Homo sapiens: one gene and its partner. The protein of the gene in region 1 purifies or fractionates together with the protein of each later gene. This does not show direct contact. Each region holds a gene or a part of one and is shown on either strand. Other genes may lie near its edges.

Region 1 (3,759 bases):
TTTTTTTTAATTAGCTGGGTGTTGTTACATGCACCTATAGTCCTAGCTACTTGGGAGTCTGAGGCAGGAGCATCACTTGAGCCCAGTAGTTCAGTGATGCAGTGAGCTATGACTACACTACTACACTCCAGCTTGGGGAGTGAAATCCTGTCTCTAAAAAAAAAAGAAAAAAAAAGGCTAAAATGGCTTATTTTATGTTATATACACTTTACCACTATTAAAAAAATTAGTTATGAATTGAAGGATTACATTTACCTTTTTTTTTCTTTTCTTTTCTTTTTTTGAGACAAGGTCTCACTTTGTCTCCCAGGCTGTAGTGCAGTGGCATGATCTCGGCTCACTCTAATCTCCACCTCCCGGGTTCAAGCAATTCTCCTGCCTCAGCCTCCCAAGTAGCTGGGACAACAGGTGTGTCCCACCACACTGGCTAATTTTTGTATTTTTAGAAGAGATGGGGTTTCACCATGTTGGCCAGGCTGGTCTGGAACTCCTGACCTCAAGTGATCTGCCCACCTTGGCCTCCCAAAGTGTTGGGATTACAGGTGTGAGCCACCGTGTCTGATCACATCTACCTTTTTTTTGTCACCAGGCTGGAGTGCAGTCATGCGATCTCAGCTCACTGCAACCTCCGCCTCCCAGGTTCAAGCAATTCTCCTACATCAGCCTCCCGAATAGCTGAGACTACAGGCGCATGCCACCACGCCCAGCTAATTTTTGTAATTTTAGTAGAGATGGGGTTTCACCATGTTGGCCAGGATGGTCTCGATCTCTTAACCTTGTGATCTGCCCGCCTTGGACTCCCAAAGTGCTGGGATTACAGGTGTGAGCCACCGTGCCTGGCTGCATCTACCTTTTTTAATACAGCAAAAGCAAATGCTAGAGGGTAGGAGTAGGGCAATCAATGATTATCCTATATAAATATAGGAGATTGTTAATGACCATATATTCCTCCTCCCATCCCAGTATACCCACTCCTTTGCAATATGACTTTGCTCTTCCTGCCATTAGGAGGTGGGACCTACTTTTTTATGCCCTTCAATCTGACTCGATTGGACCAATAGAACATGTGGAAATTATGATGTGTGAGTTCTGGAGCCTAGGCCTCAGAGGCCTTAGCTTCCTGCCTCACTTTCTGGGAAGGTGGCCTTGAGACCACCATGTTAAATCAGCTAGTTTAGCTTATTGCATATAGTTATGATAACTGACACAGAGTGCCAGATGTGTGAGTGAGGCCATCTTGGTCTTTCCAGCCCAGGTGACCGTCCAGCTGAATCCAGCCTCAGGAGTGAGCCCTGCTGAAACCACCAGATAAACCACCCAGCCAACCCACAGCATAATGAGAAATAATAAATTGTTGTTTTGGCCAGGTGTGGTGGCTCATGCCTGTAATCCTAGCACTTTGGGAGGCCAAGGCAGGTGGATCACCTGAGGTCAGGAGTTTGAGACCAGCCTGGCCAACATGGTGAAACTTCGTCTTCACTAAAAGTACAAAAAAAAAAAAAAAAAAAAAAAAATTACCCGGGCATGGTGGCAGGCACCTGTAAACCCAGCTACTCTGGAGGCTGAGGAAGGAGAATCGCTTGCACCTGGGAATTGGAGGTTGCAGTGAGCCAAGATCGCACCATTGCACTCCAGCCTGGGCATCAAGAGCAAAACTTTGTCTAAAAATAAATAAATAAATAGAAAATAAATTGTTGCTTTAAGCCCAAGTAGGGTTGGTGTTTTACATAGCAAAGGCTAAATGACAGAAAGGACTAAAAGTTCAAAATGTAATTATGGGCCAGTTTGGTTATATAATCCTCATTCTATCCATCCTCACCACTGAGTTTCTGCAGTCCTGAGTTTCTGGGTTTGACAGCAAAGAGCCTCTCCATTCCAAGCCCTATTCATCCAGTTTCCCCAGTTATTAGTCTCTTTTGGGTCAAGCACTATCATGCTGTTTTCTTTTTTTTTTCTTTTTGAGACAGAGTCTTGCTCTGTTGCCCGGGCTGGAGTGCAATGGCACAATTTTGGCTCACTAGAACCTCTGCCTCCCGGGTCCAAGCGATTGTTGTGCCTCAGCCTCCCGAGTAGCTGGGACTACAAGTGCGTGCTACCATGCCCTGCTAATTTTTTTATATTTTTAGTAGAGACAAGGTTTCATCATGTTGGCCAGGCTGGTGTAGAACTCCTGACCTCAGGTGATCTGCCCACCTCAGCCTCCCAAAGTGGGATTACAGGCACGAGCCACTGAGCCTAGCCTAAATATATATATGGTTTTTTTTTTTTTTTTTTTTTTTTGAGATGGAGTCTTGCTTTGTTGCCCAGGCTGGAGTGCAGAGGCACGATCTTGGCTCACTGCAACCTCCACCTCCCGGTTTCAAGCAATTCTCCTGCCTCAGCCTCCCGAGTAGCTGGGATTACAGGCGCATACCACCACACGCAGCTAATTGTTGTATTTTCAGTACAGATGGTGTTTCACCATGTTGGCCAGGCTGGCCTTGAACTCTTGGCCTTAAGTGATCCGCCCGCCTCGGCCTCCCAAAGTGCTGGGATTACAAGTGTGAGCCACTGTGCCTAGCCCCTAAAAATATTTTAATGGAATCAAATATAGCAAATGCTTTTTACTCAAAGTTGTTCACCTGTGTTATTTCTAAATGCTAAAAATTATTAAGAGTCTAAATGTCCACAGAGCAACAGTTAAGTAAATTAATAATCCACTCAAAAGAATATTATATTCCCACCGCAAATGATGCATATGAAGGGCAATAATGGTAGAAAAGTGCTAACGCTTTAAGGTTATGGGTAAAAAATTGATAATAAAAATGTACTAACGCCAGCTGGATGCTGTGGCTCATGCCTGTAATCCTAACATTTTGGGAGGCTGAGGTGGGGGGATTGCTTGACGCCAAGAGTAAAAGACCAATCTGACCAACACAGCGAGACCCTGTCTCTAAAATTAAAAAAAAAGTACTCATGATCATAGCTAGAAAAAAAATAAGCATTGCCCTGCCCCTCCCAGCCTTGCCCTCAGCTCCCTCTTGCAGGCAACTGGGTAAGGCAAAAATAAATAAATAAATAAATAAATAAATAAATAAATAAATAAAAAAGGGCCGGGTGCGATGGCTCACACCTGTAATCCCAGCACTTTGGGAGGCTGAGGTGGGTGGTTCACCTGAGGTCAGAAGTTCGAGACCAGCCTAACCAACATGGAGAAACCCCGTCTCCACTAAAAATACAAAATTAGCCAGGCATGGAGGTGCATGCCTGTAATTGCAGCTACTTGGGAGGCTGAGGCAGGAGAATTGCTTGAACCCGGGAGGTGGAGGTTGCAGTGAGCTGAGATCGCACCATTGCACTCCAGCCTGGGCAACAAGAGCAAGACTCCGTCTCAAAAAAAAGAAAGAAAAAGGGCCAGTAGCAGTGCCTCAGGCCTGTAATCCCAGTACTTTGGGAGGCTGAGGTGGGAGGATTACTTGAATCCAGGAGGTCGTGACCAGTCTGGGGCAACATGGCGACACTCTGCCTCCACAAAAAATACAAAAATGAGCAGGGCATGGTGGCGAGCACCTGTAGTCCCAGCTACAGGGAGACTGAGGCGGGAGGATCACCTGAGTCTGGGGAGGTTGAAGCTGTAGTGAGCCATGACCGCGCTCCTGCATTCTAGCCTCTGTGACTGAGTGTGGCCCCCTCTTAAAAAAAAAAAAAAAAAAAAGAAGCACAAAAAAACAAAGGCAGGATGGAGGCAGAAGGTAGATGGGCATTACCAAGGGCTAGGAG
Region 2 (3,759 bases), on another chromosome or scaffold:
TTACAATGCAGTCAGGCAAATTGTCTTCAGGCTCAGCTTCCATTGTGTTATATTTTCCTTCCTTCTGTTTTGTTTCTTCCTTTCCACTTAAATTGCTGTCTTAAAAATTACCAGTTAATTATTCTTTGCCTAACTAAAAGCCTTCCCTCAGTTGTTATTCTCTTTGACTTCCATGCTAATAACTCTTCCTTCAAAATTCCTTTCTTATTTGGCTCTCTAACTTGGCTTCTTCCAAGCTCAGTTTTCTTTTCTCGCTATTAATTTTCATGTCTGTAGGTATCACTTCTCTGCAGGTACTCTCACTGACTTCTCACTTGTCTTCTCACTTAAGGCTTAGTCCCTTGTCTAGATAACTCTATCAAAATGATGAGGTCTGGTTTTAGATGCTTCTTTTACTGGCTTCTCTACTCATTTTTTGGTATCTCTATTGTTTTCTTACTCAGGCTCAAAATCATAGAAATCACCTTTGTCCTATTTTCCTCTTTTATGAAGCAGTGTAACATAGTGATTAAGAACATATATCTGGAGCAAAATGCCTGGGTTCAAATCCTGGCTCATTGATCTATTAGTTTAGTGACCTTGATTTATTTATTACTGTTACCATCTTATCTGCTAAGTCTTATTAATCTTTTCCCTTTTTTCTCATTCTGCTGCTTCCCCAGTCACAACTATAATTACCTCGTTTGAATTATTATAGTAACTTCAAAACTGGTGCCATTTTTGTTTTAAAAGAAAACTTTAACACGAGAACACAAGTCACTTGTGTTTATATTATGTGATGATGATTTAAGTCAGTTTTCTAGCAATATGTATGCATTGCTAAAATTGCGGTTTTTAAAATTAGGCATAAAGTTTCAGTCCCTCTGACCTTTCTTCTAAAAGTTCCTTGTGCATTTTTCCACTAGGGGGCAAGATAATGTCATGGGAGTTAAATACTGCTTTAGGAAGAATGATCATGTAGTTATTGCTATGCCATATCTGGAGCATGAGTCGTTTTTGGTAGGTTTTAATATTTCTTGAATTTTTATTAGCTAAATATTTAATTGCAAACAATATTTGTAACTCATTTCATTTGTAACTTTGTTTTAGGACATTCTGAATTCTCTTTCCTTTCAAGAAGTACGGGAATATATGCTTAATCTGTTCAAAGCTTTGAAACGCATTCATCAGTTTGGTATTGTTCACCGTGATGTTAAGCCCAGCAATTTTTTATATAATAGGCGCCTGAAAAAGTAAGTATGAAGAGTTACTAGAAAATATTTATCCTATTTCTTTTAAAAAACAATTTTATTGTCTATATTTAAGGTATTGAACATGATGTTATATATAGTACAAAAGTTACTATTGTGAAGCAAATATTTATCTCAGTTACCCATCTTATTTTTGTTTTTACGGCAAGAGCAGCTAAAATTTACTCATTTAGTATGAATCTCATATACAGTACAGTTTTATTACCTGTAATCTTCAGAGTGTGCATTAGGTCTAGATTTATTTATCCTACATATCTGCTACTTTGTATCCTCTGACTTATATCTCTTAGATATAATATAACATACTGCAATAGCCATGCACAGATTATTTCTGTTTCAGTTTCTTTGTGATTGGAAAGGGAAATTTGGTGATGAAGAAGATAAAATTGTATTAGTGGAATAATGTACATTATTAGATGTACTATGGTTCAGTGGAAATAGCATGAACTAACAGACTTAGAGTCTAATAATTTTTGACCTTAGACATGTCTCTTATCTCTGGACTTCATTTTTCTTTTCTAGTAAGTGAGGGGATTGGACCACATGATAGCCAATTTCCTGTTTTAACACAAAAGTTTTATTTTTATGTATACTTTTTAATGCTGATTATAATTATAGAGAAATTATAAGCTAAAAATAACATAAATACCTCTATATAATGGATCATATTAAACATAATAATATTATAACTTCTTTTTTGAGCTTTTATATGCCTGACTTTTTAATTTTCTTTAATTGGATCAGATTTTAAAACCATGATTTTAATTTTTTTAAGCTTTCTTAACTAGAAATTATCTGCTATGATGCCATCTCTGCCACCATCAGAGAACAACGGACTGTGTTTATGTTATGTATTCCTCTTCTGCCTTATTAACACAGACCACTGGAAAAAGAAAATTTGATTGTGGGACAACTCTTAATTTTCAATCCTGGTTAGCTGTTAAATTCTTACTTTGTCTGGAAAACTTATTTTTTTTTCTTTTTTCCAGAATGTTATAAATTCCTAATTGATCCCAAAAAGAATTACAGTTTTTATGAGGATGGTTTGAGAGTATTACAATGTTACTAAGCTTTAATTGCTACAGATAAGTAAAAATGCTTAATTTTGTCTCTTAGGTATGCCTTGGTAGACTTTGGTTTGGCCCAAGGAACCCATGATACGAAAATAGAGCTTCTTAAATTTGTCCAGTCTGAAGCTCAGCAGGAAAGGTGTTCACAAAACAAATCCCACATAATCACAGGAAACAAGATTCCACTGAGTGGCCCAGTACCTAAGGAGCTGGATCAGCAGTCCACCACAAAAGCTTCTGTTAAAAGACCCTACACAAATGCACAAATTCAGATTAAACAAGGAAAAGACGGAAAGGTTCTATCTCTTTTATTTCTTAAGTACCGACACTGTTTTAGAAATATACTCCTTCAACCAACAGAGGGAGATAGAATACTAGGATAGTACTTATAATTTAAAAAACTTTTTTTTGCATTTGTTATATGTATTCATTTGATTAAATTTTCACTAAGATTTGTACTGAATCATTTTGGTTACTATTTTAAAACTAAAATTTACTTTGTCAGTTTATAACATCTGTCATTAACTATTATGAAATCATATTTTATGACAAAAATGGAAAATATTAAATTTTCCCTGCATGTTAAAAAGTTCAGATTAATTATCCTTTTTAAAAGAAAGCATTAGTTATAGGGGAGGAATTCTGAAGTGTCTATCTCCATTTTAGCTGCACAGCAAAATGTAACATCCATGCAGGTGGTTTTTGAATTTTTTTTTAGTTATATATATTTGTGGACTATGATAACATTGTATGGGTGTTGAGTTCTGTCTAGACTATTTTCTCCTTTCACAGAAGTGGTTTGGTGCCTGAGAATGACTTGGATGCAGCTGTTTTTGTTTCATCTCACTTAACTCTTTCAAAACTATGGCAGAGTACAGCTGGCAGAAAGTGTTACAGATATAATCCTTATTTTCCTTGTTTTTGTTGGTATTGTAGGAGGGATCTGTAGGCCTTTCTGTCCAGCGCTCTGTTTTTGGAGAAAGAAATTTCAATATACACAGCTCCATTTCACATGAGAGCCCTGCAGTGAAAGTAAGTAATGTAGCTTAATAGCATAATGGTCAGTCAGTCATACACTGAAGAGAATTTAGGTAATAACTAGATTAACATTTATTATCAGAAATTTTTTTAAACTAGAGTTTGGCTTTGGCAGAAGGTATTACTGCTTTAAGCATTTAGTCAAAACTTGTTTTCTCCAGTTTTTTTCTGAACTTTTCTGGTGGAATTTTTTCTCATTTTTGGTTAGCTATTACTGTCTTTCTCTAGAGGAACATTTAGAACATTAAGGGCTTTCTGTCATTGCTAGAGTGTGAGCTCCATACAGTTAGCTAACTATTCTGACACATAGTTGATAGTGTAAAGATGTTTGTAAAGTTAACAAAATCATCATCAATGTAGATGATTTCAGATTGACTTATGATATCTTGTGACAGCTAGAC

What was found. The genes of interacting proteins can lie anywhere in the genome.
Region 2: the proteins of DBF4B (region 1) and CDC7 purify together in Homo sapiens (affinity purification with mass spectrometry; 5 studies listed by BioGRID and IntAct, with this or other methods). This does not show direct contact.

What each region holds. Positions count from the first base shown.
Region 1 is NC_000017.11:44,725,620-44,729,378, reverse strand, and holds part of DBF4B (protein DBF4 homolog B), read right to left. Parts: intron 1-3,759. UniProt on the Homo sapiens protein: Regulatory subunit for CDC7 which activates its kinase activity thereby playing a central role in DNA replication and cell proliferation. Required for progression of S and M phases.
Region 2 is NC_000001.11:91,510,692-91,514,450, forward strand, and holds part of CDC7 (cell division cycle 7-related protein kinase), read left to right. Parts: intron 1-905; coding exon 906-999; intron 1,000-1,089; coding exon 1,090-1,232; intron 1,233-2,366; coding exon 2,367-2,616; intron 2,617-3,256; coding exon 3,257-3,352; intron 3,353-3,759. UniProt on the Homo sapiens protein: Kinase involved in initiation of DNA replication. Phosphorylates critical substrates that regulate the G1/S phase transition and initiation of DNA replication, such as MCM proteins and CLASPIN.